Linked DNA regions of Homo sapiens: regions 2, 3 and 4 are each linked to region 1. Evidence: fine-mapped expression QTL. A gene starts in region 1. Each other region holds a variant in brackets. All regions are shown on one strand. Distances are from middle to middle.

Region 1 (8,260 bases):
CAAGGCACTGAATTTCTGTGTTCAGGCTTTAACCACTTCCCATTCACATAGTGGCCCAAGCACCGGTCCTGGGTGTCCAGCCAGGCCTGGGGGAGGTAGAGACAGTTTGGAAAGGGGTTCGGGAGGAGCTGGGGCAGTTCAACCCCTACCCAGAATCCTCTAGGAGGGGACGTCTGTCTCCCTCTGCCCCATCAGCTAATTCTTTTCCTCCTATTGCTTTAAAAAAAAAGTTTGTGGTAAAATAGAGCATTTCAAAGTGTATAGTTCAGCAGTTTAGTGGCATTCTGTGCATTTACAGTGTTGTGTAACCATCACCACTCTAGTTCTAGAACATTTTTTCATTTTTTTTTTTTGAGACTGAGTCTTGCTCTGTCACCCAGGCTGGAGTGCAGTGGCATGATCTCAGCTCACTGCAAGCTCCGCCTCCTGGGTTCACGCTATTCTCCCGCCTCAATCTCCTGAGTAGCTGGGACTACAGGCGCCCGCCACCACATGCGGCTAGTTTTGTTTTTGTATTTTTAGTAGAGACGGGGTTTCACCATGTTGGTCAGGCTGGTCTTGAACTCCTGACCTCAAGTGATCTGCACGCCTTGGCCTCCCAAAGTGCTGGGATTATGGATGTGTCAACATCTTTAATTCATTCAATTAGGGTCTCAACTGAGTCCTTGGGCTGGTGCCACAACAGTGGCACCTATTTGGAGTCCACTTTGGGAGGCCGAGGTGGTCTGAGCCTAGGCATTCAAGACCAGCCTGGGCAACATGGTGAAAGCTCATCTCTACAAAAAATACAAAAAGTTAGCCGGGTGTGGTGGTGAGTGCCTGTAGTCCCAGCTACCTGGGAGTCTGAGGTGGGAGGATCACTTGAGCCCAGGAGGTAGAGGCTGTAGTAAGCCAAGATCACGCCACTGCACTCCAGCCTGAGTAACAGAGCAAGGCTCTGTCTCAAAGAAAAAAAATTTTTTTACCACATCTCACTCACCACATCTCCTCCATATTTCTTTCTTTCTTTTTTTTTTTTTTGTTTGAGACAGAGTCTTGCTCTGTCACCCAGGCTGGAGTGCAGTGGCGCGATCTCTGCTCACTGCAAGGTCCGCCTCCTGGATTCACGCCATTCTCCTGCCTCAGGCTCCCGAGTAGCTGGGACTACATGCGCCTGCCACCACGCCTGGCTAATTTTTTTGTATTTTTAGTAGAGATGGGGTTTCACTGTGTTAGCCAGGATGGTCTTGATCTCCTGACCTCGTGATCCGCCCGCCTCGGCCTCCCAAAGTGCTGAGATTACAGGCGTGAGCCACTGCGCCCGGACTTCTCCTCCATATTTCTTTCTCATCCTGGTCACGTCTTCCCTGATGCTAAATCCAAAGCACACTGCTCACTTGCTCCTTCTACAGACTCCCCTAGCATCTCTGATGTCACATATTCCTGATTTTTCTCTTACTGGCCCTTCTTTCTTTTTTTTTTTTGAGATGGAGTCTTGCTCTTGTCTCCCAGGCTGGAGTGCAATGGTGCGATCTCAGCTCACTGCAACCTCCGCCTCCTGGGTTCACGTGATTCTCCTACCTCAGCCTCCCAAGTAGCTGGGATTACAGGCGGCCGCCACCATGCCCAGCTAATTTATATATTTCTAGTAGAGATGGGTTTTTACCATGTTGGCCAGGCTGGTCTCGAACTCCTGGCCTCAGGTGATCCACTCGCCTCGGCCTCCCAAAGTGCTGGGATTACAAGCATGAGCCACTGTGCCTGGCTTCTCCTTTCTCTTTAAAGCAAAAAAGTTACTTAGAAGTTCCAAACTCAAACGCCCACAGGGAGAGAGACATCTGTGAGAAAGTCAGGGATATTTGAACATGAACTGGGCATCAGATGACATTAAAGAATGATTGTTGGCCGGGCATGGTAGCTCACATCTGTAATCCCTGCACTTTCCCACGCTGAGACGGGAGGATTGCTTGAGCTGAGGAGTTTGAGACTAGTCTGGACCTACACAGCAAGACCCCATCTCTACAAAAATAAAAGTAAAAAATTTGCCAGTCATGATGATGCACACTTGTAGTCTCAGCTAGTCAGGAGGCTGGGGTGGGAGGATTGCTTGGGTCCAGGAGTTTCAGGCTGCAGTGAGCTATGAACGCTACTGAATGCTAGCCTGGGCGACAGAGTAAGATCCTGTCTCAAACAAACAAACAAAAAACAAAAAGAATGACTTAATGTTAAGTGTGGTAACAGACCATGGTAGTTTTGTAACAAAATGAGCCCTTATCTGTTAGAAGAAAGGATTCAAATATTTATAGGAAAATACTGTGACATCCAGGATTTGTTTAAATTACTCCAAAGAAAATACAGAAGGAAACAGCGCTGGGATAAATGTTGATGATGGTTGAGGCACAGTGATGGGTAAACAGGAGTTCAAAATAAATGCTAATTATTCTGTGCAAGTTGGAAAGCTTCCCCCCAAAAGAAAAACAAAATTCCAAAAGAATGTCCAGAGGGTTCCAGGAGGCCTGAGAAGAGGGCCTGGATGAGAAGAGGAGCTTAACGATTCATGGAAAAGACAGGAGCTATTGGTCCCAGATGACTTTTGTCAGGGAAGTTGAGCCAAATGTTGACACATTTTGGAATTTTATTTTCAAGAGGACCTCCCGGATGTTTACATGGAATCAATTGTCCAGCATTTCACATAAAAAAAAAATAAAGTTCACGCCAAAGAAAACATGTTTGTTGGTTGAGTCTGGCCCAGAGACTGTACGGTTGAGAACTTTGCTGGTGTAGGCAAGACCACGGGTCTGAAATGCAAGGACTCAAGTCCAAGTCTCAACTTCACTTTTTATGTTTTATTTTTATATTAATAGAGATAGGGCCTCACCATGTTGCCCAGGCTGGTCTCAAACTCCTAGGTGCGAGTGATCCTCCTGCCTCGGTCTCCCAAACTGCTGGGATTACAGGTGTGAGCCACTTGCCTGGCCTCAACTTCTTTTTTTTTCAGGGGGGACAGGGTCTTATTCTGTCACCCAGGCTGGAGTTCAGTGGTATGATCACTGCACCTCCCAGGCTCAGGTGATCCTCCCACCTCAGCCTCCCGGGTAGCTGGGACTACAGGTGTGTGCTGCCATCCTCGGCTAATCTTTTGTTTTCTGTTTCCTTTTTTTTTTTTTTTTTTTTTTGAGATGGAGTTTTGCTCTTGTTGCCCAGGCTGGAGTGCAGTGGCGTGGTCTCGGCTCACTGCAATCTCCACCTCCTGGGTTCAAGCGATTCTCCTGCCCCAGCCTCCCAAGTAGCTGGGATTACAGGTGCCTGCCACCACGCCCAGCTAATTTTTTGTATTTTTAGTAGAGATGGGTTTCACCATCTTGGCCAGGCTGGTCTCGATCTCCTGACCTCATGATCCGCCCGCCTCGGCCTCCCAAAGCGCTGGGATTACAGGTGTGAACCACTGCGCCCAGCCATTTTTGTATTTTTTTTGGAGACAGCGTCTTGCTCCGTTGCCCAGGCTGGAGTGCAGTGGTGCAATCTCAGCTTACTGCAACCTCTGCCTCCTGGATTCAAGCAATTCTCCCACCTCAGCCTCCCAAGTAGCTAGGATTACAGGCAAACACCACCACGCTCAGGTAATTTTTGTATTTTAGTAGAGATGGGGTTTCACCATGTTGGCCAGGCTGGTCTCGAACTCCTGACCTCAGGTGATCCGCCCACCTAGGACTCCCAAAGTGCTGGGATTACAAGTCTGAGCCACCACGCCTGGCCCAATGTTTTGTATTTTAGTAGAGACGAGGTTTCACTATGTTGCCCAGGCTGGTCTCGAATTCCTGAGCTCAGGCGATCTGCCCGTCTTGGCCTCCCCAAGTTCTAGGCTGTGCCAGGGTTCTGATCCAGTTCCTTCCACTTGGATCATTGCTCTGGCCTCCTGCCCTCCCCCTCAAAGAAGCCTAAGCTCCTTTCGCCTGGGTGCTGGGGGACCCTGGGGGATCATGAGAGCCCCGTGAAGGAATTCTGAGAGTGCCTGGGGAAACGACAGAAAGTTTGAGGTGCCCTACTCATTTGCAGGAACCCCACGAGGGTTCTGGGGGCCTCTGAGGGGTCATGGGAGTCCTAGGGAGGTTCTGAGGACCCCCAGGGGATCATGGGACCCTCACGAGGACTTCAGGGGTTCCTGAACAATCATGGGAACCCTATGGGACATTCTGAGAGCTAGAGAGATCATAGGAGCCCCGTGAGGGTATTGTGAGGGGCCATAAGTAATTACAGGAAGTCCTGATGTGGCTGGGTGCAGTAGCTCACGCCTGTAATCCCAGCACTTTGGGAAGTCGAGGTGGGTGGATCACTTGAGGCCAGGAGTTCGAGACCAGCCTGGCCAACATGCTGAAACCTTGTCTCTAGAAAAAGTACAAATATTAGCTGAGAGTGGTGGCGCGCGTCTCTGGTCCCAGTTACTTGGGGGGCTGAGGTGAGAGGATGGCTTGAGCCCAGGAGGTTGAGGCTGCAGTGGTGTGATAGCGCCAGTGCACTTCAGTTTGGGCGACAGAGTGAGACCCTGGCTCAAAAAAAAAAACAAAAAAAAAACCCAACCCAAACCGGAAGTCCTGATGTATTCTAGGCTCCTGAGAGTTCCGATGAGGTCACATGAACCCCACGAGTATTGAGGGGTCCTATGGGATCACGGGGGCTCCATGGAAGTTCTGAAGGTCTCTGGGTAATCAAAGGGATGAAGGGAGTCCCTCAGGAGGTCTGGGGTGCTCTGGAGGCCCATGGAAGCCATAGGATGTTTTGAAGAGTCGTGGAAAGACAATGGGGGTTGTGGGTCACTGGAGCCTCACAGGAATCCTAAGGGGTCTGGTGGGTGGCGTCAGGTTCTGAGGGGACCCTGAGGAATCACGAGAGCGTCTAGAGGAGTTCAGGAAAACCGCGGAAACACTACGAGGAGTTCAGGATCAAGGGGCAAGAGAACCAGTGGGGAAGACCGGAACAGACTAAAAGGCTGCCACCGCCAAGGCTCAAGGGAGCGTCCTACAGGGCGCGATCCTATTGGGCGGCGGGAATCACGGGGACTAAGAGAGGCGGAGCGGCTGAGCTACCGCAGTGGATGACGGGACTCCCCGCGAAAAACCGGGCGCCCAGGCCTGGGGAACGCAGCGAGCAGCGCCGGCCGGGCAGACTCTCACCAGTGCGCATGCGTGGCTCTCCGGCACCGGTCCGTACTCCAGCGAGGTGAAGATCTCGCGGGCGCGGGGCCCTGCACGCGTCGCAGCCATCGCCTACCCCGAACGCTTTCCGCGAAGACTGCGGGGCGCTCTGTGTTAAGGGGAACCTTGAGGTCCGAAGAGCGACACCTCCGGTTCCAGCCCAAAGGGGCGGGGCTAATGGGAATGGGGTGGGGCTACAAGATACAGAGAGCAGCCACGCCCACACTTTTTCCTTAGGACCCGATGGCCCCGCCTACGTCCCCCACGGGGAAGCGTATTTAGGAGCATGCGCACTGCTTAAAACGGGGAGGAAGGGGAGACGGCGATGTGGGTACTTTGCGAATAGTTAGGAGGGCTCCGGATTTATGAGGATCGGCGTGGCCGGGCACGATGGCTCTTGGCTGTAATCCCAGCACTTCGGGAGGCCGAGGCGGGCGGATCACCTAAGGTCGGGAGTTCGAGACCAGCCTGACCAATTTGGTGAAACCCCGTCTCTACTAAAAATACAAGCATTAGCCGAGCTGTGGTGGTGCGCGCCTGTAATCTCAGCTACTCAAGAGGCTGAGGCGGGAGAATCACTTGAACCCAGAAGGTGTACGTTTCAGTGAGCCGAGATCGCGCCACTGCACTCCAGCCTGGGTGGCAAAGGGAGACTGTGTCTAAAAAAAAAATAGTAATAAAAAAAAAGGGTCGTCCTATTGATGCGTCTTCCCAGTGCCTTGTTTTATAGTAGCAGGAAGTGCAGGTTTTGTTTTACCTTTTATTTTCTTGAGACAGGGTCTCCCTCTGTCGCCCAGGGCTGGAGTGCAGTGGTCCGATCACGGCTTACTGTCGCCTCGACTTTTCAGGTTTAAACATTACTCCTGCGTCAGCCTGCACAGTAGCTGGGACTACAGGCAGGTGCCATCAAGCCTGGCTAATTTTTTTTTTTTTTTTTTTTTTGGTAGAGACAGGATCTTGCTATGTTGCTCAGGCTGGTCTCGAACTCCTGGGCTCAAGCGATCCTCCTACCTCGGCCTCCCAGCCTCAAAGTGCAGCTTTTCTAATTATATTGACTAGAGGTCTAGATCTAGATCTAGACCTGGCGGGTCTAGATCTGGACGTATTAGGATCTAGAGCTGGCAGGAAGTGATAATTCAAAGATAAAAAGGGTACCTTTTAGGATGGACATTGAGATTAAGGTTTGGAAAATGCAACCTTCACTGCAAAGTAAGGGGGCCAGTTTTGGTTGTGGAAAGAGTGGAAGTCTGGCGCTTTTTTTTTTTTTTTAAGAGATGGGGTGTGGGACGTTATCTCATTGTATTGCCCAAGCTGGTTTCGAACTCCTGGCCTCAAGCGATCCTCTTGCCCTGGCCTTCCAAAGTGCTGGGACTACCGGTAGGAGCCACAGCGCCCAGCCGGAAGTGTGGCTTTCATAGATACAGGAAGTGTGGCACTCAGGGATCCGCCTTGGGGTTTATTTTTGATTGATGCGAGGGGCGTGGCTTGTCGATAACGCGATACCAGCTTGTGAATGAACACTGGGGTACTCGGAAGTGTGGCATACTCCAGTCCTGTGTTTACCGATAGACCGGAAGTGTGGCTTCGTTTACAGTTCGGCACGTAGGACGGAGGGTAGTGCGTCTAGAGACACATATTCCCCACGGATTTGACGATGGTGTTCGGTCTTGAATGGAAATGTAGTCTTAGGCCAGTCTTAGGTTTTTGAACAGGATAGTAGGTATCCGGAGTCGATTGAGGGCCAGAGCAGGCACTGGGGTTCGGATCCTGGGCAAAGTTTCCCACGTTGAGGGTCTCGAGGACGCCTAGATCTCTTTCCCAGGGCCATGGCGAACCCGAAGCTGCTGGGAATGGGGCTAAGCGAGGCGGAGGCGATCGGTGCTGATTCGGCGCGATTTGAGGAGCTGCTGCTGCAGGTGCAGTGACCGGACCCCTGGATCCTTGAGTATTCGGGGATTTTGGCGGGGTGCTCAAAGATGGGACTGCAGTTCCCAGAATGCACTAAGGCGGGAACCAGGCCTCGGGGAATTGAGGTTAATGGGCTTCAAGTTTGCTAAGAAATGGGAGTGGGGGGCCGGGCGCGGTGGCTCACACCTGTAATCCCACCACTTTGGGAGGCCGAGGCGGGCGGATCACGAGGTCAGGAGATCGAGACCATCCTGGCTAACACGGTGAAACCCCGTCTCTACTAAAAATACAAAAAATTAGCCGGGCGTGGTGGCGGGCACCTGTAGTCCTAGCTACTGGAGAGGCTGAGGCAGGAGAATGGCGTGAACCCGGGAGGCGAAGCTTGCAATGAGCCGAGACCTCGGCACTGCACTCCAGCCTGGGCGACAGAGTGAGACTCCGTCTCCAAAAAAAAAAAAAAAAAAAAAGAAATGGGAATGGGGTTGGGGTTGTTCTTCTAGTTCTCAAAGGAGAAAGGGGACCTAAACCGTCTAATTTCTCGCGTTATCCACAGCTCTCATGCATAAGAATTGCTCCATTTGAGGAACAAATGAGGGGTCTGATGGCACAGACTCCGAGCCTGGAGGTAGTTTTCCTTTATACAGGCCTCGAAGGAGCTCCAGCAAGCCCAGACAACCAGACCAGAATCGACACAAATCCAGCCTCAGCCTGGTGAGAAAGGACACCGGAGAGAGAGGGACAGGAGACCCAGGGAGAGGACAGAGAGAGGAGGAAGGAAAGAGACACGAAAATAAAGGCCTAGGGTGGGGGTGGGGTGAGCAGACACCCACAGAGATCATCCTAGGACAGAAAGGAGTTGGAGGACAGAGTAGGAGTAGGTAGGGGGCCAGAGAATCAGAGATAGGAAGAGGCCAGGTGCGGTGGCACGTGCCTGTAGTCCCAGCTACTGGGGAGGCTGAGACAGGAGAATTGCTGGAACCCAAGAGGCAGAAGTTGCAGTGGGTGGAGATCGCACCACTGTACTGCAGCCTGGGTGACAGAGCGAGACTCTGTCTCAAAAACAAAACGAAACAAACAACAACAACAAAGATAGGAAGAGAGGCTGGGCACAGTGGCTCACATCTGTAATTCCATCACTTTGGGAGGCCGAGGTGGAAGGATTGCTTGAGGCCAGGCATTCA
Region 2 (8,260 bases), 250 kb before region 1:
TTTGTTTTTTTTGTTTTTTTTTAACGTTTTTTGTAGACAGGTTCTCATTATGTTGCCCAGGCTAGTCTCAAACTCCTGGGCTCAATTGATCTTCCTGCCTTGACCTCCCAAAGTGCTGGGATTACAGGCATGAGCCACTGCACCCAGCCTGGAGTCATCTTCTTGCTCTGTAACTCCTCGCTGTGTGACTCTGGGAAAATCACTTCCCTTCTTTGAGCCCCAGTTACCAACTCATCAAAGGAAGGTCCTCATCCCAGTCCCCTTTCTTTGCCAGGTGACCCTGGGCCAGCCTCTGCCTCTCCCTGAGCCTCAGTTTTTCTTTTCTTTTTTTTTTTTTTTTTTTTTTTTTGAGATGTATTCTTGCTCTGTCGCCCAGGCTGAAGTACAGTGGCACAATGTCAGCTCACTGCAACCTCCACCTCCCGGGTTCATGCGATTCTCATGCCTCAGCCTCCCGAGTAGCAGGGATTACAGGCACACACCACCATGCCTGGCTAATTTTTTTGTATTTTTAGTAGAGGCAGGGTTTCACTATGTTGGCCAGGCTGGTCTCGAACTCCTGACCTCATGATCCGCCCACCTCGGCCTCCCAAAATGCTGGGATTACAGGCATGAACCACCGTGCCCGGCCAAGCCTCAGTTTTTCTTCTGACACTAAGGCGCTGGAGAGGACGGTCTTTGGAGATGGGGCAGGGGTCCCCAGAACCAGGGAGGGCTGGCCGCCCTACCTCCCACATGTGTCCTGAGATGGGGCAGTCGGCCCAGGAGTGCTCCACGCTGAGGCCCAGCTTCCCGTTAGAGAAGACGATTAGGGTGAAGGATTTGTCAAACCAGCTGTCAGGGAGAGTTCAGATGGGTCACCAAGAGCGAGGGGCACGGGGACCTCAGAGTGCTTTCTGTGGGACTTGAGGGGGTTTTCTAGATGGGAAGATGTGGGAATCCATTGGGGTGCTGGTATGGGGATCTCTAGGACCATTGGGGGTCCCCAGTAGTGGCCCTGGAGGTCTCCAAGACATGTCTGGGATTTAGAGTTTGGAGATTGTTTTTTTGTTTGTTTGTTTGTTTTGAGATGGAGTTTCACTCTTGTCGCCCAGGCTGGAGTGCAGTGGCGCGATCTCGGCTCACTGCAACCTCCGCCTCCCAAGTAGCTGAGGGTTCAAGTGATTCTCCCGCCTCAGCCTCCCAAGTAGCTGGGATCACAAGCATGCACCACCATGCCCAGCTAATTTTTGCATTTTTAGTGGAGATGAGGTTTCACCATATTGGCCAGGCTGGTCTCAAACTCCTGATCTCAGGTGATCCGCCCCTCTCAGCCTCCCAAAGTGCTGAGACTACAGGCATGAGCCACCATGCCCAGTCTGGAGTTTGGAGATTTTTAGGAAACTTGCCGAGGAAGGTTCAAGGCTTTTGGGGGTGCTGGGAGGTCAGCGGGACCCCCCTGGGGCCTAGGAATTCAGTGATGCCTGCCAGGCCTGAGAATCTCTAGGTCTGGAAGTCTGGGTCTAGGGCCATGGATTTGGGGTGCCTGCATTAAGGCCTGAGGATTGAATGGTTCAAGTTCTGAGGCTGAGGTTGCCAAGTCTGGGGTCCCTGGGCCTAGGGGTCCTGGGTTTGGTGGTCCTCAGATCTGGGGTCTCTGGGTCTGTGATGCTGAGTTCTCTGGGTCGGAGGGTCCAGCTCAGGGGTTTGGGAGTCTCAGATTTGGGGGTCACTGGGTCTGGTTTATAGGTCTTGGGTCCCAGGTTGAGGGGTTCCCCAGGTCAGAGGTCTCCAGGTCCCAAAGCACTGGGTCTGGGGTCCTCAGCTCTATGCAGCCCCTGGTCTACAGACTCTGCAGGTGTGGGCTCCAGGGTCTGGCTGTCTACTGTCAGGGGTCCTAGGTCTGATACTGGATTCTCGGGTGCCACATCTGGGGGCCCCATCCCAAGACTCACTCACCGATCATGGCCCCGGCCGGCCAGCAGAGCATGGGCGTAGGCATCCAACGACGCTGCCGGGTCCTCCCTGGTGAGCCCCGCGGGCTCAGCATCCAGTGACACAAAGAAAGCGGCCCCTTCCACCGCCTCCAGGGCCTCCGCTGCCTGGGTCTTCAGGGATGTCCGCACCTGGGCCCACGTGCCCCTGGAGGGCCCGGGATGTGCCTGAGTCCATCCTGCCCAGCCGCCACCTGGCCCCACCCTGCCCTTCCACAGTCTCAGGACACTGGCGGCCTCTGAGAGCCCCTGACCCCTGACCCCTGACCCTTACCTGGGAGCAGCTGTCAGAGCTGCCAGATGTTCCTCGTGGGGGCAGGCCGGTGAGGGATCATCCAGGATTCTCTGAAACTGCTGCTCCAGGGCTCTCGGGGAAAGCAGGCTGTTTCGGGAGTGGGTCCCCATGCGGAAGAATCGGCCCCGGTGGAAGACAGCCACGTGTTGGCTGTCATGGAGGTGGCGGATGTAGTCTAGGGGTGGCGTTGGCAGAAGCATGGGGGCAGGAAGGCCAGACACATAAAAATAGTGACCATTTATTATATACTTCTTAGGTGTCGTCAGTTGTTCAAAGTACCCTAGTAATCATCAGCACCCTAGGACTTTTATTTACTTAGTATTTGGAGACAAGGTCTCGCTCTGTCGCCAGGCTGGAGTGCAGTGGTGAGATCTCAGCTCACTGCAGCCTCAACCTCCGGGGCTCAGGTGATCCTTCCACTTCAGGCTCCCGATTAACTGGGGCCACAGGTGCATATCACCATGCCTGGCTAATTTTTAAATTTTGTATATAGACCGGATCTCACTACGTTGCCCTAGGCTGGTCTCGAACTCCTGGCCTAAGCAATTGTCCACCTCGGCCCCACAAAGTGCTGGGATTACAGGCATCAGTCACTGCGCCCAGCCCCTAGGTACAATTATTATCCCACTTTAGTGGAAGCTGAGGCTCAGAGAGGGTAATAACGTGCAGAAGGTCACACAGCAAGGAAGCAATGGTTCCCAGCTCAGTCAGGCGGACTCCAGAAAACATGCTCTTAGCCACTATATTGTTCTGCCTCCATCAGTGGGGACAGGAGAGGGTCTCACCTTTTTGGACCCCTGGAATCCGCGTGGTGTTGAAGATCTTCTCGTACTGGGCAGAGCATAAGGGGCGCATTCCCATCAGCAAAGTCTGCAGGAAACCGTGGGCTGTGAGCTGCCTTCCAGGACCCACGTGGCCCAAAGGCCACAGGACCACACCTCCATCCCTAACCCACTGGGGCCCTCTCACCGGGGGTATCTCCTGGCGGTTCAGGCGGTGGCGGTACAGGAGGAGGGCATGGACGGCATTCCCAGCGCGAGCTGCCTGCAGAGGCGTGGGTGTGACATACAGGAAGTCCTGGGGACCAGGAGAGGGGATGGCAAAACACCCAGGGTCAGGTTTGCCCCCGATGGAGCCACTGACCCAAATACAGGTCCTGACCCCAAAAGAGGGTGGAATGATGAATCCCAGATGGCGCGTCTAGATCCAGGTCACTGAGCATGACCGTCACATTCCGCCCAGGTACCCCCCAACCCTAGACCTGGGGCCTATGAACCTCACCCCTCCCCTTCTCACCATCATGTAATAGTTGCTGTTCACCATCAGCGGATTTCGGGAGCGCAGGTACACAAATTCCTCCCACCAGTCACTGACCTGGGAGCGGGGTGGGGAGACACACAGTGAGGGGCTGGGGCCTGTTGGGGGAGGGACAGTAGGACAGGGAAGGCCCCAGATGCTCCTGCGTCAGGCAGGGAGGATAGAGCCAAAGAAGTCAGCCATCGTAGTCAGTAACTAGCGATCACCTAGAAATCCATCCATGGGGGATCAGTTAGCTAAACCCTGTTATACTCCGGCAGTGGAATATTACATAGCTGGTGGAAATAACAAGGTACAGCTGGGCACGGTGGCTCCCGCCTGTAATCCCAGCACTTTGGGAGGCTAAGCGGGTGGATCACC[T/C]GAGGTCAGGTGTTCAAGACCAGCCTGGCCAACATGATGAAACCCTGTCTCTACTAAAAATACAAACATTAGCCACACGTGGTGGTGCACGCCTGTAATCCCGGCTACTCGGTAGCCTGAGGCAGGAGAATCGCTTGAGTCGGGGAGGCAGAGGTTGCAAGGAGCTGAGATCGCACCATTGCACTCCAGCCTGGGCAACAAGAGTGAAACTCCGTCCCCCCCAAAAAAGAAAAACAGAACATAAATGTAAAATTTATAAAACAATAAATATGTGAAATAATATACATATGTGTAAATACATGAAAATTGTGGCCTTGCCAATACCATGATAAAATTCAAACAATGAAAAACACAAAAGAAAGCACTGTGTCACGGTTTAGCTGCTCTTGTAGGGTTTTTTGTTGTTGTTGTTGTACATAAAAAAATGGTGCGTGTGTCACTGGCAGTTGGCTTGGAGGTACAATAAAATATACAGGCTGGGCGCAGTGGCTCACACCTCTTATCTCAGCATTTTGGGAGGCTGAGGTGGGAGGATAGCTTGAGCCTCGGAGTTTGAGACCAGTCTGTGCAACATAGCAAGACCCCATGTCTACAAAAAATTTAAAAATTAGCCAGGCTTAGGGGCACATGCCTGTAGTCCCAGCTACTCAGGAGGCTGAGATGGGAGGATGGCTTGAGTCTGGGAGGTCAAGGCTGCAGTGAGCTTTGATCACGCCACTGCACTACAGCCTGGGTGACAGAGTGAGACCCCTTCCAAGAAAGAAAAAGGAAAGAGAGAGAAAGAGAGAAGGAAGGAAGGAAGGAAGGAAGGGAGGGAGGGAGGGAGGGAGGGAGGGAGGGAGGAGAGAGAGACAGAAAGGGAGGGAGGGGGAGAGAGAGAAAGATAGAGAAAGAAAGAAAGAAAGAGGCCGGGCATGGTGGCTCACGCCTGTAAATCCCAACACTTTGGGAGGCCGAGGCAGGCGGATCACGAGGTCAGGAGGTCGAGACCATCCTGGCTAACACGGTGAAACCCCATCTCTACTAAAAATACAAAAATACAAAAAAAAAAAAAAAGAAATTAGCCAGGTATGGGAGGCTGAGGCAGGAGAATGGCGTGAACCTGGGAGGTAGAGCTTGCAGTGAGCTGAGACGGTGCCAGTGCACTACAGCCTGGGCGACAGAGTGAGACTCCATCTCAAAGAAAAAAAGGAAGGAAGGAGACAGAAAAAAAGGAAGGAAAGAGAGAGAGAAGGCAGGCAGGCAGGCAGGAAAGAAGGTAGGAAAGGAGGGAGGGAGGGAGGGAAGGAAGGGAAGAAAGAAATGAGTGTGTGTGTGTGTGTGTGTGTGTGTGTGTAAACAGAATCTTGTCCAAAAGTGTGAAGAAAAAAATATTTAACCAGAAAAGCAAGGCCTGCATTCCCTTTTACTTCTCCAGATATTTCGTCCCCTTCGCTGGGTTTGACCAACTGAGGCTTCCACATAGCTGCCTCGTGGGGCTCTGCCGGGGACCCTCTTCCCTTCCCCTCTCACTCTTGCTGCAGCTTTTCTCATCCCAGCCCAGTGTCTCAATGACCTACAATGGTAGGTCTCACGGTAGCTTCCTCTGCAGCCTCCCGCCCTCCAGTCTTTCCCCCACACCAAAGCTGACCCTGCCCCTTCCCTGCTCCAAACCCTCCCATGGCTCCCTAGTACCCCCAGGAAAGAGTCCAGGATCCTCAGTCTGGAGTTCAGGCCTCTCCCACCACTCCTCACCATTCAACTCCTTTGGTTTTGTCTTTTTTTTTTTCTTTTCTTTTTTTTTTTTTGAGACAGAGTCTTGCTCTGTGGCCCAGGCCGAAGTGCAGTGGCGCGATCTCAGTTCAGTGCCACCTCTGCCTCCTGGGTTCAAGCAATCCTCCCGCCTCAGCCTCCCGAGTAGCTGGGATTATAGGCGTGTGCGCCACCAGACCTGTTTAATTTTTGTATTTTTAGTAGAGACGGGGTTTCACCATGTTGGCCAGGCTGGTCTTGAACTCTTGACCTCACGTGATCCGCCTGCCTTGGCCTCGCAACCTGCTGGCATTACAGGCGTGAGACATTGCACCAGGGCTAAGTCCTGGAATTCTGGTTCAAACTTTGGAAGATCAAGGGTGAAGCTCAGAATACTGGAGCATCTATACCCCAAACTTCAACATTAAATATATAGAGAGAGCATATATATGTTATGAGCATATATATATAAATAAATATATAAGCCTATATATAAATAAATATATATTTATTTATAATTTATAAATAAATATATATTTATTTATAATTTATAAATAAATAAATATATATTTATAATTTATAAATAAATATATATTTATAATTTATAAATAAATATATATTTATAATTTATAAATAAATATATATTTATAATTTATAAATAAATATATTTAATATATTTATAATATTTATATATTTATTTATAAATTTATATATAAATATATTTATATATAAATTTATAAATATTAATATTTGTATATAAATATAAATATATATATTTATAAATAAATATATATATTTATATATACACTATATATTTATATATAAATAAATATATATACATATATATTTTTATATATATATAAATGTGGAGGTTAGGATATAGATGTATGTGAGCGGGGCTCAGGGTATTGACCCTTGGGGGCTGGGGGCGTGTGGGTTGTGGGCGTGTCGTGGGGCAGGGCGTATAACTCGCAAGTTTAGCAGGCGAGCTCACAACCTTAGCCCTTCAGGTGGGGCGTTGGTGGCGGTGGCGGGACTCACATAATTGGACGCCCACCAGGACTTGAGCCGCAGGTACCACTGCAGCAGCGACGCCTGCAGCCTCAGGAATTCCTGCGCCAGGACCGCGGTCCAGTCGAAGTCCTCGTCGGAGAGGATGGGCCGGACCGACTCCAGGTACTAAAGGGGAGAAGAGGGCAGGTCACGCCCCCGGCCCGCCCCGGCCGCCCCAGCCCGTCTGCGCGCTCCCAGGCCCACCTTGCGCACGGTGTCCTGCACAGAGGGCACGGGCTGGCGTGGCAGGGAGCGCTGGTAACTGAACAGCATCGGGTGGCGGCCAGAGAAGATGCGGACCAGGGCCTGGGGAGGAGGAGTTACCGGGTCATTAACCCCTCACCGGAGCCAGGGAGTTGACGGGGCAGGGGTCGACAGTGGGACAGAAACCCAAAGAGAAGGACACAGAGACTTAAGAGCATCGGAGACCCCAAGAGAGAAAGGAACAGAGACCCAGAGACAGGGGACAGAGACCCAGAGAGAGGGGGACAGAGACCCAGAGAGAGAGGGGGGCAGAGACCCAGAGAGAGTCGGGGGTAGAGACCCAGAGGGGGGGACGGAGACACAGAGAGAGAGGGGGACAGAGACCCAGAGAGAGGGGGACAGAGACCCAGGGACAGAGGAGGACAGAGACCCAGAAAGAGAGGGGGAAGAGACCCAGAGAGAGAGGGACAGAGACCCAGAGAGAGGGGGACAGAGACCCAGAGAGAGGGGAATAGATAAGCGGGTCCCAGGAGAGCCTGAGCAGGGCTATGCCCCTCCCATACCAGCCAGGTCTTGGTGGGGGAGGACATGGCTCCGTGGGGCTCAAGAAGCCAGCCGTGGTAGGACAGAAGCAGCCTCAGGGCCACGTGCAGTGTGAAGATCAGGGCTCCCCACAAACACGAGGCAAACAGCGCGGCTGCCAGGACCCCCCGGAGCCCGTGGTGTTGTCCACCCCTGCGGGGAGAGAAACAGAGGCTGGGCCTGGGTCTCCTGGCCTCAGAACCTCCCTCCCTTCCAGCCCCCTCCAGCCCCTGCGCTGATCTTTTGGCTGTCAGACAGAGAAACCCATTTTTGTCATTTTAGTAGGTGTGAGCTCTGTCACCCCCTCCAGCCCCCTCCCATTGTGGCAGCACCAAGCTTCCAAAGTCACTTTCCATGGAAGTTGGTAGGTGTTTAATAAATGACAGCCATTATTTCTATTGAGGGGACACTTTTTCCTTCCAGCTATCACTACTCTAAGGCAATAGTTCTGAAACTGTGGCTCCTGGGAGCACTGCCTGGGAGCTTGTTCGAAATGCATATTCCTGGGCGCCTTTAAGACCTAACAAGCCAGAATCTCTCAGGGTGGGGTCCAGCAATCAGCGTTTTTTTTTTTGTTTTGTTTTGTTTTTGGGATGGAGTCTCGCTCTGTCGCCCAGGCTGGAGTGCTGTGGTGCTATCTCGGCTCACTGCAAGCTCCGCCTCCTGGGTTCACGCCATTCTCCTGCCTCAGCCTCCGGAGTAGCTGGGAATACAGGTGCCCACCACCACGCCCGGCTATTTGTTG
Region 3 (8,260 bases), 63 kb before region 1:
GGAAGCCGGGAGTTCAAGACCAGCCTGGGCAACATGGAGAAACCCCGTCTCTGAAAAAGTTTAAAAATTAACTACGTGTGATGGTACACACCTGTGGCCCCATCCATTCAGGAAGGGTAAGGTGGGAGGATCGCTTGAGCTTGGGAGGTTGAGGCTGCAGTGAACTCTAATCCCGCTACTGCACTCCAGTCTAGGCAACAGTGCAAGTGCCTGTCTCAAAGAAAAAAAAAAAAAAAAGCCGGGTGCAATGGCTCATGCCTGCAATTCCAGCACTTGGGAGGTCAAGGCAGAAGGATCCTTACGCCCAGGCTTTCTTTTCCTTTTTTTTTTTTTTTTTTTGAGACGGAGTCTCTGTCGCCCAGGCTGGAGTACAGTGGCACAATCTTGGGTCACTGCAACCTCCGCCTCCTGGGGTCAAGCGATTCTCCTGCCTCAGCCTCCAGAGTAGCTGGGATTACAGGCGCACACCACCACGCCCAGCTAATTTTTCTATTTTTAGTAGAAACAGGGTTTCACCATATTGGCCAGGCTGGTCTTGAACTCCTGACCTCGTGATCCGCCTGCCTCAGCCTCCCAAAGTGCTGGGATTACAGGCGTGAGTCACTGTGCCCGGCCAAGCCCAGGACTTCTAGACCAGCCTTGGCAACAAATACCCCATCTCTACAAAAAATAGAAAATGTTAGCCAGGCATGGTGACGTGTACCTATAGTCCCAGCTACTTGTAAGGCTGAGGCGGGAGGATCTCTTGAGCTTGGGAGTCCAAGGCTACATGGCGCTATGACTGTGCCACTGCACTCCACTCCAGTCTGGGCGACAGAGCAAGATCCCAGCTCAAAAAAGAAAATAAAAGGCAAAGATTTCAGCAACTGCCTAGGACTGGGCATTACTGCCCAAGTTCCTTTCAGGGAGGGTGGATCTGGGCAATCGTGGGTCTTGGCTGGGATCTTGGTTTTGGTTGCTCAGCAGAAAACACATTTGCTGCTTCAGGAAAGCACAGCAGCTTCTCCCTCCTGGAGCTGCCTCTCTGGCAAGTCGGCAGAATTTGCTGCACCGTCAGGTGGAATGGAGGGACCGGGCTGACGGCCATCAGCAGTTCTGGCTTCTGCTTTATGTTCACTATTCTTTTCAGCAAATCTGTATCTTCCTGTGTCGTGCTCACAGCCACGTGCCTTCAGCCTCAAGGTACTTCCAATATAGACTAAATCCAAGCACAGAAAATCTGTCTGGCCTTTGGTTCTGTTTAACAAAATACCAAACCAGGTCAGGCATGGTGGCTCACGTCTGTAACCCCAGCACTTTGGGAGGCTGAGGCAGGCAGATCACCTGATGTCAGGAGTTCAAGACCAGCTTCGCCAACATGGTGAAACTCCATCTCTACTAAACATATAAAAATTAGCTAGGCATGGCAGCGCATGCCTGTAGTCCCAGCTACCCTGGAGGCTGAGGCAGGAGGATCACTTGAATCCAGGAGGCGGAGGTTGCAGTGAGCTGAGATCATGCCATTGTACTCCAGCCTGCGCAATAAGAGTGAAACTCCATCTCAAAAAAAAAAAAAAAATCCATCCTGGCCAACATGGTGAAACCCTGTCTGTACTAAAAATACAAAAATTAGCTGGGTGTGGTGGTGTGTGCCTGTAATTCCAGCTACTAAGGAGGCTGAGGCAGGAGGATCACTTGAACCTGGGAGGTGGAGGTTGCAGTGAGCCGAGATCGTGCTACTGCACTCCAGCCTGGTGACAGAGGGAGACGCCCTCTCAAAAAAAAAAAAAAAAAAGCCCGGGCGCGGTGGCTCACGCCTGTAATCCCAGCACTTTGGGAGGCCGAGGCAAGTGGATCACAAGGTCAGGAGTTCAAGACCAGCCTGCCCAACATAGTGAAACCCCATCTCTCCAAAAAAAATACAAAAATTAGCCAGGCATGGTGGCACGCACCTGTAATCCCAGCTACTCAGGAGGCTGAGGCAGCAGAATCGCTTGAACCTGGGAGGCGGAGGTTGCAGTGAGCCAAGATCGCAACACTGCACTCCAGCCTGGGCGACAGAGCAAGACTCCATCTCAAAAAAAAAAAAAAAAAAAAAAGATTAAGGCAATGGCCATTGCTATCCGCTAAAACCATCAGGAGAAAACCTGACAAAGAACTTCATAACAACACCCGAATCCAGTGGTCCACAGAACAGCACAGAAGCAAGCAGATGTTTGCAGCCTATGCACACAGACATACGCACCAACTACCCAGAAAGTTTTCTTGCCATAAAAATTGAACCAGAATCTGACCAAGCTTCTAGATGGAGCTGCTCCTTTAAAGAAGAGAAGGAGGACTATTTCCAGCAACATCACAGGATGCAAAGGGCAAAATCCAGTCTAGGAGAAACTCAATAGGACATAAACTGACTTTCTTCAAACCACAATTACAGGGGGAAAAAAAACAAAAAGAAAATGGGAAACCTGTAAATCAAAAGACACTCAAGATCACAAGTAACTCAAATTACCTGAAAATGAATCACAGACCTAACTGTAAAATGCAAAACTTTAAAACTCTTAAAATACACAGGAGAAGATCTAGCTGACTTTGGGTTTGGTGATTACTTCTGAGATTAAACACCAAAAGCATAATCCACGATAGAAAAAAAAAAAAGAATAAACTGGATTTCATCAAAGTTAAAAACTTTTGCTTTGTGAAAGGCACAGTTAAAACAATGAAAAGACAACCTAGAGAGTGGAAGAAATATTTGCAAAACACCTATCTGGTAAAAAATTGGAATCCGGCCGGGCGCGGTGGCTCAAGCCTGTAATCCCAGTACTTTGGGAGGCTGAGGCAGGCGGATCAGGAGGTCAGGAGATCGAGACCATCCTGCCTAACACAGTGAAACTCTGTCTCTACTAAAAATACAAAAAATTAGCCGGGCGTGGTGGTGGGCGCCTGTAGTCCCAGCCACTCGGGAGGCTGAGGCAGGAGAATTGGTGCAACTTGGGAGGTGGAGGTTGCAATGAGCTGAGATCGCGCCACTGCACCCCAGCCTGGGTGACAGAGCGAGACTCCGTCTCCAAAAAAAAGAAAAAAACAAAAATACGGCCGAGCGCGGTGGCTCACGCCTGTAATCCCAGCACTTTGGGAGGCCGAGGTGGGTGGATCACCTGGGGTCGGGAGTTCGAAACCAGCCTGGCCAACATGGTGAAACTCTGTCTCTACTAAAGATACAAAAAATTAGCAGGGCGTGGTGGCTTGCGCCTGTAATCCCAGCTACTTGGGACGCTGAGGCAGGAGAATTGCTTGAACCCGGGAGGCAGAAGTTGCAGTGAGCCGAGTTCGTGCCTCTGCACTCCAGTCTGGGCGACAGAGTAAGACTTTGTCTCAAAAAACAAACAAACAAAAATAGCTAGGCCTGATGGCGTGCACCTGTGGTCCTACCTACTGGGGAGGCTGAAGTGGGAGAATTACTTGAGCCCAGGAAGTTCAGACTGCAGTGAGCTATGATTGCACCACTGGACTCCAGTCTGGTGACAGAGCAAGACCCTGTCTCAAAAAGGAAAAAAAAAAAAAAAAAGAAAGAAAGAAAAATTCAACAATCAGAAAAAGACACTGAAAAGACAACAAAATGTGTGGACCTTGCTGGATGCTGATTCAAACTTTAAAAAACATTTACAGTCAGGAATATGGGAACAAAAACTGGACATCTGATGCCATTAAAGAGTTAATTGGTTGTAGGTGTGATGATGGTTTTGGTATTAATTTTTTTTAAATGCCCTTACCTAGTAGAGTTACATACTAAAGGACTTATCAACAAAACAGTCTGGCTGGGCACGGTGACTCCCGCACTTTGGGAGGCTGAGGAGGGCAGATCACTTGAGGTGGAGGGTTCGAGACCAGCCTGGCCAACATAGTGAAATCCCGTCTCTACTAAAAATACAAAAATTGGCCAGGCGCGGTGGCTTATGCCT[G/C]TAATCCCAGCACTTTGGGAGGCCAAGGTGGGTGGATCACGAGGTCAGGAGTTCAAGACCAGCCTGGCCAATATGGTGAAACCTCATCTCTACTAAAAATACAAAAATTGGCTGGGCGAGGTGGCGGGCACCTGTAATCCCAGCTACTCAGGAGGCTGAGGCAGGAGAATTGTTTGAACCTGGGAGGCGAAGCTTGCAGTGAGCCGAGACTGAGCCACTACACTCCCGCATGACAGAGTGAGACTCCATCTCAAAATACAAACAAACAAAGAAAAAAACACTGTGATGTCTGAGATTTACCAAAGCTTGATGTGAAGTGGGGTGGGGAAGTGAGTGAGGATGTGCGTGAAATTCAAAAAACCATGGGTTGATAATTATTAAGTCTCAGTGATGGGATGCTCGCTTCCTTCCTTCCTTCCTTCCTTTCCTTCCTCTTTCTCTCTCCCTCTCCTCTCTCTTTCTTTCCTTCTTTCTTTGAGACAGAGTCTTGCTTTGTTGCCCAGGCTGGAGTGCAGTGGCTTGATCTCGGCTCACTGCAACCTCTGCTTCCCGGGATCAAGTGATTCTCCTGCCTCAGCCTCCCGAATAGCTGGAATTACAAGCACCCACCACCGCACCCGGCTAATTTTTGTATGTTTAGTAGAGATGGGGTTTCACTCTGTTGGCCAGGCTTATCTCAAACTCCTGACCTTAAGTGATCTGCCCACCTCGGCCTCCCAAAGTGTTGGAATTACAGGCGTGAGCCACTGCACCTGGCCACCATATTTTTTTTCTTTTTGAGACAGGGTCTGGCTCTGTCATCTGGGCTGGAGTGCAGAGTTGCAATCAGTTCACTACAGCCTCAAACTCCTGAGCTCAAGCGATCCTCCTGCCATAGCCTCCCCAGTGGCTGGGACTAGAGGCACATACCACCATGCCAGGCTAATTTTTTGAGTTTTTAGTAGAGATGCGGTCTTACTATGTTGCCCAGGCTGGTCTTGAACTCCTGGGATCAAGCAATCCACCTGCCTCGGCCTCCCAAAGTTCTGGGATTATAGGCGTGAGCCACCGTGTCTGGTCCGTTTTATACTATTGTTTCTACTTAAGTGTGGTTTGAAACTTTCCCTCCTTAAGCCAGGAGTGGTGGCTCATGCCTGTAATCCCAGCACTTTGGGAGGCCAAGGTAGGCAGATCACGAGATCAGGAGTTCGAGACCAGCCTGGCCAGCATGGTGAAGCCCCCGTCTCTACTAAAAATACAAAAATTAGCCAGGCATGGTGGTGTGTGCCTGTAATCCCAGCTACTCGGGAGGCTGAGGTAGGAGAATTGCTTGAACCTGGGAGGCGGAGGTTGCAGTGAGCCAAGATTGCGCCACAGTACTGCAGTCTGGGCGACAGTGCAAGAGTCTGTCTCAAAAACAACAACAACAACAACAAAGGCCAGGAGCAGTGGCTCACGTCTGTAATTCCAGCACTTTGGGAGGCCGAGGCAGGCAGATCACGAGGTCAAAAGATCGAGACCATCCCGGCCAACATGGTAAAACCCTGTCTTTACTAAAAAAAAAAAAACAAACAAAAATTAGCCAGGCGTGGTGGTGCACGCCTGTAGTCCCAGCTACTCGGGAGGCTGAGGCAGGAGAATCACTTGAACCTGGGAGGCGGAGGTTGCAGTGAGCCGAGATCGCGCCATTGCACTCCAGCCTGGGCGACAAGAGCGAAACTCTGTCTCAAAAAAAGAAAGAAATTTTCCCTACTTAGGAAAGAAAGAAGACAATTAAAGAAAAACTACCTGGTTGAGTCTCAACTTCTCCTTTGTGGCACTTGGAATGAATATCTGTGCACATCCCCAGCTGGTATCTATCTTTGTCCAGCAGCCTGGGAGCCACAGAGGGTGAATGTGTGTCACTTCCCTCTTTGCTCAAGGCCCAGAGCAGCGCCTGGCAGTGCAAATGCTCTTGGCCAACAGTTGAATGAGTGGGGATCTGGGGGCCTCCGGGGAGGAAACAGTGAACTCTGCCCTACAGAGCTGAGGAAAGGCTTCTCAGAGGAAGTGATATCCAGCCCTGACCTTGAAGAATAAGGAGGGCTGGAGTATATGCAGAGAGGGGGAAGGGTGGAACAGAGAGGTGCCAGGGGAAACTGGATGAGCAAATGCCCAGAGGGAGGAGATTGCTTATGTTGGGTGGCTGGAGCGTAGACTCTGATGGCTGCGTAGAGACAAGTGCTGCTGCGTGGGTCTGATGAGGACATTAAGGCAAGGAAGGCCAAGCACAGTGGCTCACACCTGTCATCCCAGCACCCTGGGAGGCCAAAGTGAGAGAATCACTTGAGGCCAGGAGTTTGAGTCTGGCCTGGGCAGCATAGTGAGATGCCACCTCTACAACAAATTTTAAAAATTAGCCAGGTATGGCCAGACGCGGTAGCTCACTCCTGTAATCCCAGCACTTTGGGAGGCGGAGGTGGGTGGATCACTTGAGGTCAAGAGTTTGAGACCAGCCTAGCTACCATGACGAAACCCCATCTCTACTAAAAGTATAAAAATTAGCCAGACATGGTGGATGTGCCTATAGTGCCAGCTACTCATGAGGCTGAAGCAGCGGAATCCCTTAAACCCAGGAGGCGGAGGTTGCAGCGAGCTGAGATCACCCTGCTTCACACTAGCCTGGGCAACAGAGATTGTGCGGAAAAAAAAAAATTAGCCAGTTATGGTGGTATGCACCTGTAATCTCAGCTACTCAGGAGACCAAAGCAGGAGAATCGCTGGAGCCTAGGAGTTCAAGACCAGCCTGGGCAACATAGTGAGACACCGTGTCTACAAAATATAAAGTTAGCCAGGTGTGATGATGCTGGGCTGTGGTCCCAGCTACTTGGTTGGCTGAGGTGGGAGGACTGCTTGAGCCTGGGAGGTTCAGGCTGCAGTGAGCCGAGATGGTGCCACCACATTCCAGCCTGGGGTGACAGAGCGAGAATCTGTCTCAAAAAAAAAAAAAAGGGGGGAGCCAGGAGCAGTAGCTCATGCCTGTAATCCCAGCACTTTGGGAGGCTGAGGTGGGCGGATCACCTGAGGTCAGGGGTTTGAGACCAGCCTGACCAACATGAAGAAACCCCGTCTCTACTAAAAATACAAAATTAGCCGGGCATGGTGGTGCATGCCTGTAATCCCAGCCACTCGGGAGGCTGAGGCAGGAGATCACTTGAACCCGGGAGGCGGAGGTTGTGGTGAGCCGAGATCGCGCCATTACACTCCAGCCTGGGCAACAAGAGCGAAACTCCGTCTCACAAAAAAAAAAAAAAAAAGAAGGCAAGGAAGGAAGCCAGGAGTTTGTCCTGGGGGGCGCTGGGGAGCCATGGGAGGGCTGAGTGTAGAAGGACCCCTGAGGAATGGGGGGGCAGAGCGTGGGCTGCAGTGGGAGGCTGATGGAGGGTCCTGGCAGGGGAACTGAGGCAGGTGGGCATGACGGGAGAGAGGACAGAACAGCCTGCGGCTGCAGATCCGGCTCACCCTTCCACTCCAGGTTTCCGCGGCCCCTCTCCAGGTGCTCCCGCAGGCGGTGCGGGCAGGAGAATAGCAGGAAGGTGAGCTCCTTGTTGGCCGCCTTGTCCTGCTGCTGCCACCGCTGACTGATAGCCAGGGCCTCGGGCCAGTCCCCACCCCAGGTGCCCTGCTTGAGGTCGAAATTCATGAACTCCTCGCCGTTCAGGGCGAACTTGGCGGTGGGCACCGAGGTGTTGTCAGGGCCCAGTTCACAGCCCAGCAGGCCCTGCAGAGTGTAGGGACCTGGGGCGCCCAAACACAGGTAAGCGGGGCCCCGGAGCATGGACCCGGCCCCTTGCCCCTCCAGACCGGAATCTCACCTTTTCCCCCCAAAGCTTTGAAAGCTTCCAGAAAGAGCTTCTCCTTGATCCTCAGATCTGTGGTCTCTTTCTCCCAATACCAGGACACCTGGTTTTCCCAGACCCAAGCTCCACAGGGCTCCGCCTCGCCCCGCAGGCTATTGTAGCTCAGGTACTGCTGCGGGCCCAGCCAGCCGGACACCCAGAAGGCAGGAGTCCCCGGGGCAGGCGAGGACACCGCGGTAAGGTGGTACAGGAGGGAGAGGTGGCTTTCTGCAGACAGAAACAGAGCTGAAGGGAGCACACGGGCGGGGAACTAGACTGCAGTGGGACAGATACCCAGGGAGGGAGAAGAATCTATTATGGAGGGAGGGGGACAGATTCAGAGAGAGGGGACAGAAACCCGGGGGGGGGGGGACAGAGACCCAGAGAGAGAGAGACAAGAGACCCAGAAAGAGAGGGGGACAGAGACCCAGAGAGAGAGAGGGAAACAGACACAAGAGGCGACAG
Region 4 (6,388 bases), 240 kb before region 1:
CTCGCTCTGTCACCAAGGCTGAAGTGCAGTGGCACAATTTCGACTCACCGCAACCTCCGCCTCCCGGGTTCAAGTGATTATCCTGCCTTAGCCTCCTGAGTAGCTGGGACTACAGGCGCGCACCACCACACCCGGCTAATTTTTGTATTTTTAGTAGAGACGGGGTTTCACTATGTTGTCCAGGCTGGTCTCAAACTCCTGACCTCAGGTGATCTGGCCACCTCGGCCTCCCAAAGTGCTGGGATTACAGGTGTAAACCACCATGCTTGGCTATTTTTCTTTTTTCTTGAGACAGGGTGTCACTCTGTTGCCCAGGCTGCAATGCAGTGGCATGATCTCAGCTCACTGCAGCCTCGACCTCCTGAGCTCAGGTGATCTCCACCTCAGCCTCCTGGGTAGCTGGGACCACAGGTAAGTGACACCACACTTGGCTAATTTTTTGTTATTTTTAGTAGAGACGGGGTTTCACCATGTTGCTTAGGTTGGTCTCAAACTCCTGGGCTCAAGTGATCCTCCTGCCTTGGCCTCCAAAAGTGCTGGGATTACAGGCATGAGCCACTGTGCCCAGCAAAGCTCACACCTTTTTTTTTTTTTTTTTTTTTTGAGATGGAGTTTCGCTCTTGTCACCCAAGCTGGAGTGCAATGGCGCAATCTCGGCTCACTGCAACCTCCACCTCCCGGGTTCAAGCGATTCTCCTGCCTCAGCCTCCCTAGTAGCTGGAATTACAGGCTCCTGCCACCACGCCCAGCTAATTTTTTGTATTTTTAGTAGAGACAGGGTTTCACCCTGTTGGCCAGGCTGGTCTTGAACTCCTGATCTCAGTTGATCCACGTGCCTCAGCCTTCCAAAGTGCTGGGATTACAGGCATGAGCCACCATGCCTGGCCTAATTTTTGTATTTTTAGTAGAGACAAGGTTTCACCATGTTGGCCAGGCTGGTCTCGAACTCCTGACCTCAAGCGATACACCCACCTCAGCCTCCCAATGCCCAATGTGCTGGGATTACAGGGGTGAGCCACTGTGCCCGGCCTCACCTCCTTTTTCTTCATGCCATGCCTTTATTAATCTGACCCAATGTAAGTCTCAGAGGTTACTTTTCTTTAGCAGGTACACCACAATGACAGAGGAACTTACTGGGTGAAGGGAGAGTGATTGGGGGTTACTGGGCTGGAGTGGGGGGACCTCACCAGTCAGGCAGCAACTCTTTGATCTTCTCCATCAGTCCTAAGGAAGGATCCAGCTGGAGGAACCAGGCAAGCTGGATGGCACTGAAGAGGAAAAGCCAACTGAGGGGGCTGGCAGGAAACACACCGGTGAGAAAGTCATTCTGTGGGGAGGAAAGGGCATCCATTGAATCATCTGCCCTCTCCTCTGAGCCCCTGTTCTGTGCCATCCCCAGACATTACTGAGCACCCAGTGCGGAGCCCTGAGCTGGAGGCTCAAGATCTAGTAGGGAACAGAGAGATCCAGGTCCTGCCCTCAGCGAGGTCAGACCAGAATGAAGTAAGTATTAATTGCTATAGGGCAAGAAATAGGAGGAGCCCTGTGCTGCCAAGTTACAGTTCGAGGGCATCAGGGAGGGCTCCCTGGAGGAGGATATTCTGAGGCAGGACCTGGAAGGGGAGGCTGTCAAAGGCAGAACAGTCCGGATGTGGTGGCTCACTCCTGTAAACTCAGCACTTTGGGAGGTCAAGGAGGAGAATCCCTTGAGCCCAGGAGTTCAAGACCAGCGGTGGCTCACGCCTGTAATCCCAACACTTTGGGAGGCTGAGGCAGGCGGATCACTTGAGGCCAGGAGTTCAAGACTGGCCTGGCCAACATGGTGAAATCCGTCTCTAGTAAAAATACAAAAATTAGCCGGGCATGGTGGCAGGCACCTGTAATCCCAACTACTTGGGAGACTGAGGCACGAGAATCGCTGGAGCCCGGGAGGCTGAGGTTGCAGTGATCCAAGATCACGCTACTGCACTCCAGCCTGGGTGACAGAGCAAGACAAGGTCTCCAAAAAAAAAAAAAGAAAGAAAAAAAAATTAGGCGCAGTGGCACACACCTTAGTCCCAGCTACTTGGAAGGCTGAAGCAGGAGGATCGCTTGAGCCCAGGAGTTCAGGGATGAAGTGAGCTGTGATGGTGACACTGCACTCCAGCCTGGGTAACAAAGTAAGTAAGACCCTGTCTCAAAAAAAAAAAAAAAAAAGAAAAGAAAAGAAAAAGAAAAATGATCCCTATTCAGAGCAGGGTCTGGAGCTCAGTAAGGCCTTCTAGAAGTACCAGGGCATGGAATGAATGAGGAACGACCAACAGCACTGCGTTACTAACTAAACTCCTTTGGAAGCCTCAGAGAGATAACTAACGTTTAATGAGCACTTACTACATTCCAGGTGCCATTTACAAGGATTAACAATTTAAATCCTCCCCAAACCATGTGAAATAAGTACTAAGATGATCTCATTTTACAAATGAAAACACTGGGGTTTGGCCGGGCGCAGTAGCTCATGCCTGTAATCCCAGCACTTTGGGAGGCCTAGGCGGGTGGATCACCTGAGGTCAGGCATTCCAGACCAGCCTGGCCAACATGGCAAAACCCCATCTCTACTAAAAATACAAAAATTAGCCAGGCGTGGTGGTGGGAACCTATAATCCCAGCTACTCAGGAGGCTAAGGCAGAAAAATTGCTTAAACCCAGGAGATGGAGGTTGCAGTGAGCCAAGATCCTGCTATTGCACTCCAGCCTGGGCAACAGCAACAGAGTGAGACGCTGTCTCAAAAAAAAGGCCAGGGGCAATGGCTTATGCGTGTAATCCCAGTGCTTTGGGAGGCCAAGGTGGGCGGATCACGAGGTCAAGAGATCGAGACCATCCTGGCCAACATGGTGAAACCCCGTCTCTACTAAAAATACAAAATTAGCTTGGCGTGGTGGCACACGCCTGTAGTCCTAGCTACTTGGAGGCTGAGGCAGGAGAATCACTTGAACCCAGGAGGCAGAGGTTGCAGTAAGTCGAGATCACGCCACTGCACTCCAGCCTGGCAACAGACTGACTCCATGTCAAAAAAAAAAAAAAAAAAAAAGGCCAGGTGCAGTGGATCATGCCTGTAGTCCCAGCACTCTGAGAGGCCAAGGCGGGTGGATCACCTGAGATCAGGAGTTCGAGATCATCCTGGCCAACATGGTGAAACCCTGTCTATACTAAAAATACAAAAAATTAGCCGGGCCTGGTGGCAGGCACCTGTAATCTCAGCTACTTGGGAAGCTGAGGAAGGAGAATAGCTTGAACCCATGAGGCGGAAATTGGAGTGAGCCAAGATCATGCCATTGCAATCCAGCCTGGGCAACAAGAACAAAACTCCGTCTCAAAAAAAAAAAAAAAAAAAAAATTGTGCATTTTTCTCCATGTAATGTTATCATATATATGTGTGTGCATGTATATATTTATAGGTCTATAAATATGTATGTATCTATGTATGTATGTATTTAAACACACGAAAAGGATGGCCACATGTTTGTTTTTTTTTGAGACGGAGTCTCGCTTTGTTGCCCAGGCTGGAGTGCAGTGGCACGATCTCGGCTCACTGCAAGCTCCGCCTCCTGGGTTCACGCCATTCTCCTGCCTCAGCCTCCCAAGTAGCTGGGACTACAGGTGACTGCCACCACGCCCAGCTAATTTTTTTGTATGTTTAGTAGAGACGGAGTTTCACTGTGTTAGCTAGGATGGTCTTGATCTCCTGACCTCGTGATCTGCCCGCCTCGGCCTCCCAAAGTGCTGGGATTAGAGGCGTGAGCCACCATGCCTGGCCAAGGATGGTCACATGTTAACACTTTAGTTGGTAGACTGGCCTGAGGCCCAAGGAGTCCCAGGGTAAGGGCGGGAGAGGGATTCGGAGTTCAAGGCAGTGGCTGTTTGCCAACTGGAACAGATTATACAACCAACAAGACCACAGAGGTTCAGTTTAGCCTGCTGAAGCATCCCAGCTTCAGGAGATCCTCCTGGCCGCCGGCTCCCACCCCCTTTTTTTTTTTTTTTTTTGAAACGGAGTCTTGCTCTGTCACCCAGGCTGGAGTGCAGTGGCGCAATCTTGGCTCACTGCAATCTCTGCCTCCTGGATTCAAGTGATTCTTCTGCCTCAGCCTCCCAGGTAGCTGTGATTACAGGTGCCTGCCACCACACCCGGCTAATTTTTGTATTTTTAGTAGAGATGGGGTTTCACTATATTGGCCAGGCTGGTCTTGAACTCCTGACTTCGTGATCTGTCTGCCTTGGCTTCCCAAAGTGCTGGGATTACAGGCGTGAGCCACCGCACCTGGCCTGCCACCCCCTTATTTAACTGCAACACCCCCACATCACTCTTCTCTACCCGATTTATCATTCACCATAGCATGTGTCACCATCAATATCAGATGACACTATAGAATGTCACCATACCCTATATTTTGCTCATCTGTTTTATTGCCTTCTGTTTTGCTCATCTGTTTTATTGCCTTCTCCCCCAACTCGAATGAGAACTCTATAAAAGCAGGATTCTGTCTTTATTATTTATTTATTTATTTATTTATTTATTTATTTATTT[T/AT]TTATTTTATTTTATTTTTTTTTGAGACGGAGTCTCGCTCTGTCGCCCAGGCTGGAGTGCAGTGGCGCCATCTTGGCTCACTGCAAGCTCCGCCTCCCGGATTCACGCCATTCTCCTGCCTCAGCCTCCTGAGTAATTGGAACTACAGGCACCCACTACCACACCAGGCTAATTTGTGTGTGTGTGTATTTTTAGTAGAAACGGGGTTTCACCGTGTTAGCCAGAAGGGTCTCGATCTCCTGACCTCATGATCCGTCCGTCTCAGCCTCCCAAAGTGTTGGGATTACAGGCATGAGCCACCGTGCCCGACCTGTCTTTATTTTTTTAATAGAGATGGGGTCTCCCTATGTTGTCCAGGCTGGTGTCCAAGTCCTGGGCTCAAGTGATCCTCCTGCCTCAGCCTCCCAAAGTGCTGGGATTAAAGCCGTGAGCCCGCAGTGCCCAGGCGTGATTCTGTCTGTTGATATCTGCTGTGTTCTCCATGCTAAAGAGGGCCAGGCCCTTACCGGATGCCCCATAAATATATGGTGAATGAATGAAGAACAATATCAGAAGCTAACACTCAGACCTCGCCATGGGCCAGGACATAGAAGAATTAATTTAGTCTTCAAGGCTATCCTGTGAGGGAGGTGCTGTCAACACCCATGTTTTCCACGAGGGGAAACTGCGACTCCAAGAGAGGTGCTTGCCCAAGATGACACAGCTACTAAGCGGTGGAGTCAGGATTCAAACTCAATCATGACCCCACAGGTGTTCCAGACCCCAGTTCACACACAGAGGATGTGACAAGCAGGGAGTCCCTGTATGGAGACAGTGCAAGAGTTCTAGAACCAGAAACCCTGGGACAGACATGGGTGCTGGTTACACATTGGGCATGCGCATTCCAGAACAGGGACAGAGCAGGAGTTTGGGCCGGGCGCGGTGGCTCATTCCTGTAACCCAAGCGCTTTGGGAGGCAGATCACTTGAGGTCAGGAGATCGAGATTAGCCTGGCCAACATGTTGAAACCCCGTCTCTACTAAAAATACAAAAATTAGCTGGGCGTATAATCCATGCCTGTAATCCCAGCTACTCGGGAGGCTGAGGCAGGAGAATCGCTTGAACCTGGGAGGTGGTTGCAGTGAGCCAAGATCACCCCACTGCATTCCAGTCTGGGCAACAGAGTGAGACTCTGTCTCATAAATAAATAAATAAATAAGCCAGGCATGGTGGCGTGCGCCAATAATCCCGGCTACCTGGGAGGCTGAGGCAGGGAATTGCTTGAACCCAGGAGGCGGAGGTTGCAGTGAGCTGAGATCCCGCCACTGCACTCCAGCCTGGGCGACAGAGTGAGACTGTGTCTCAGAAACAACAACTACAAAAGAAGCTGGAGATGAAAGGAAGAAATGATAATTTCACCATAAGGGAAGGATATGGAGTTCTAGAAACTGGAAGTGGGTAGTTTTTGGGGGGCCCAGTTCCCCTCTTGGGTGAAAGAAGTGAGCAGAGGTTCTCAGCAGGTGGGGCTGTGGATCCCAGAAGTGAGCCACGGAGAAATTGCTAAAGGGGTCCTGGGAGCAGACATCAAAATTCTAAGAAAAAGGGGTGATAGTCTCCCAGAAATGAACCAGCTGAAATGCCGGAAGTGAGCCTCAGACATCCCGGAAGCAGAAACCTGGATCCCCGGAAGGAAACCGACCAGCACCGCTCCTCACCCAGAAACGTGAGAGATGCCTTTTCCAGGAGCGCAGGCCAGAGAGGTAGATCTCCTGCAGCACAGGGGCACTGAGTTCCACTTCAGCCCCGTCCGAGGTCAGCGAGGGTCGGAAGCCCACGGCCTGGTG

Evidence for each region. PIP is the estimated chance that this variant, and not a neighbour inherited with it, causes the effect.
Region 2: its variant is fine-mapped to the expression of PIH1D1 in whole blood (INTERVAL, PIP above 0.99).
Region 3: its variant is fine-mapped to the expression of PIH1D1 in whole blood (TOPMed, PIP 0.96).
Region 4: its variant is fine-mapped to the expression of PIH1D1 in whole blood (INTERVAL, PIP above 0.99).

The regions. Positions count from the first base shown.
Region 1 is chr19:49,450,312-49,458,571 of GRCh38, reverse strand. PIH1D1 (PIH1 domain containing 1) reads left to right here and starts at 6,758. Exons shown (of 9, transcript NM_017916.3): 1 at 6,758-7,087; 2 at 7,724-7,790. The coding sequence starts at 6,998. ALDH16A1 (aldehyde dehydrogenase 16 family member A1) reads right to left here and starts at 5,347. Exons shown (of 17, transcript NM_153329.4): 1 at 5,151-5,347; 2 at 1-86. The coding sequence starts at 5,240. RefSeq lists enhancers at 3,795-4,754, 6,488-6,537, 6,548-6,827, 6,452-7,130.
Region 2 is chr19:49,700,092-49,708,351 of GRCh38, reverse strand. It overlaps CPT1C (carnitine palmitoyltransferase 1C), which reads right to left. Exons shown (of 20, transcript NM_001199753.2): 5 at 7,497-7,668; 6 at 6,934-7,035; 7 at 6,718-6,855; 8 at 3,565-3,642; 9 at 3,238-3,345; 10 at 3,054-3,138; 11 at 2,248-2,443; 12 at 1,939-2,121; 13 at 729-834. Among named protein-coding and RNA genes, the nearest start is that of CPT1C, 13 kb to the right of the region's middle. The variant T/C (reference allele first, on the strand shown) is at 3,946.
Region 3 is chr19:49,513,645-49,521,904 of GRCh38, reverse strand. It overlaps FCGRT (Fc gamma receptor and transporter), which reads right to left. Exons shown (of 7, transcript NM_001136019.3): 3 at 7,772-8,023; 4 at 7,419-7,694. Among named protein-coding and RNA genes, the nearest start is that of FCGRT, 5.1 kb to the right of the region's middle. RefSeq lists an enhancer at 7,021-7,734. The variant G/C (reference allele first, on the strand shown) is at 3,939.
Region 4 is chr19:49,692,265-49,698,652 of GRCh38, reverse strand. It overlaps CPT1C (carnitine palmitoyltransferase 1C), which reads right to left. Exons shown (of 20, transcript NM_001199753.2): 3 at 6,260-6,388; 4 at 1,188-1,327. Among named protein-coding and RNA genes, the nearest start is that of CPT1C, 4.3 kb to the right of the region's middle. The variant T/AT (reference allele first, on the strand shown) is at 4,566.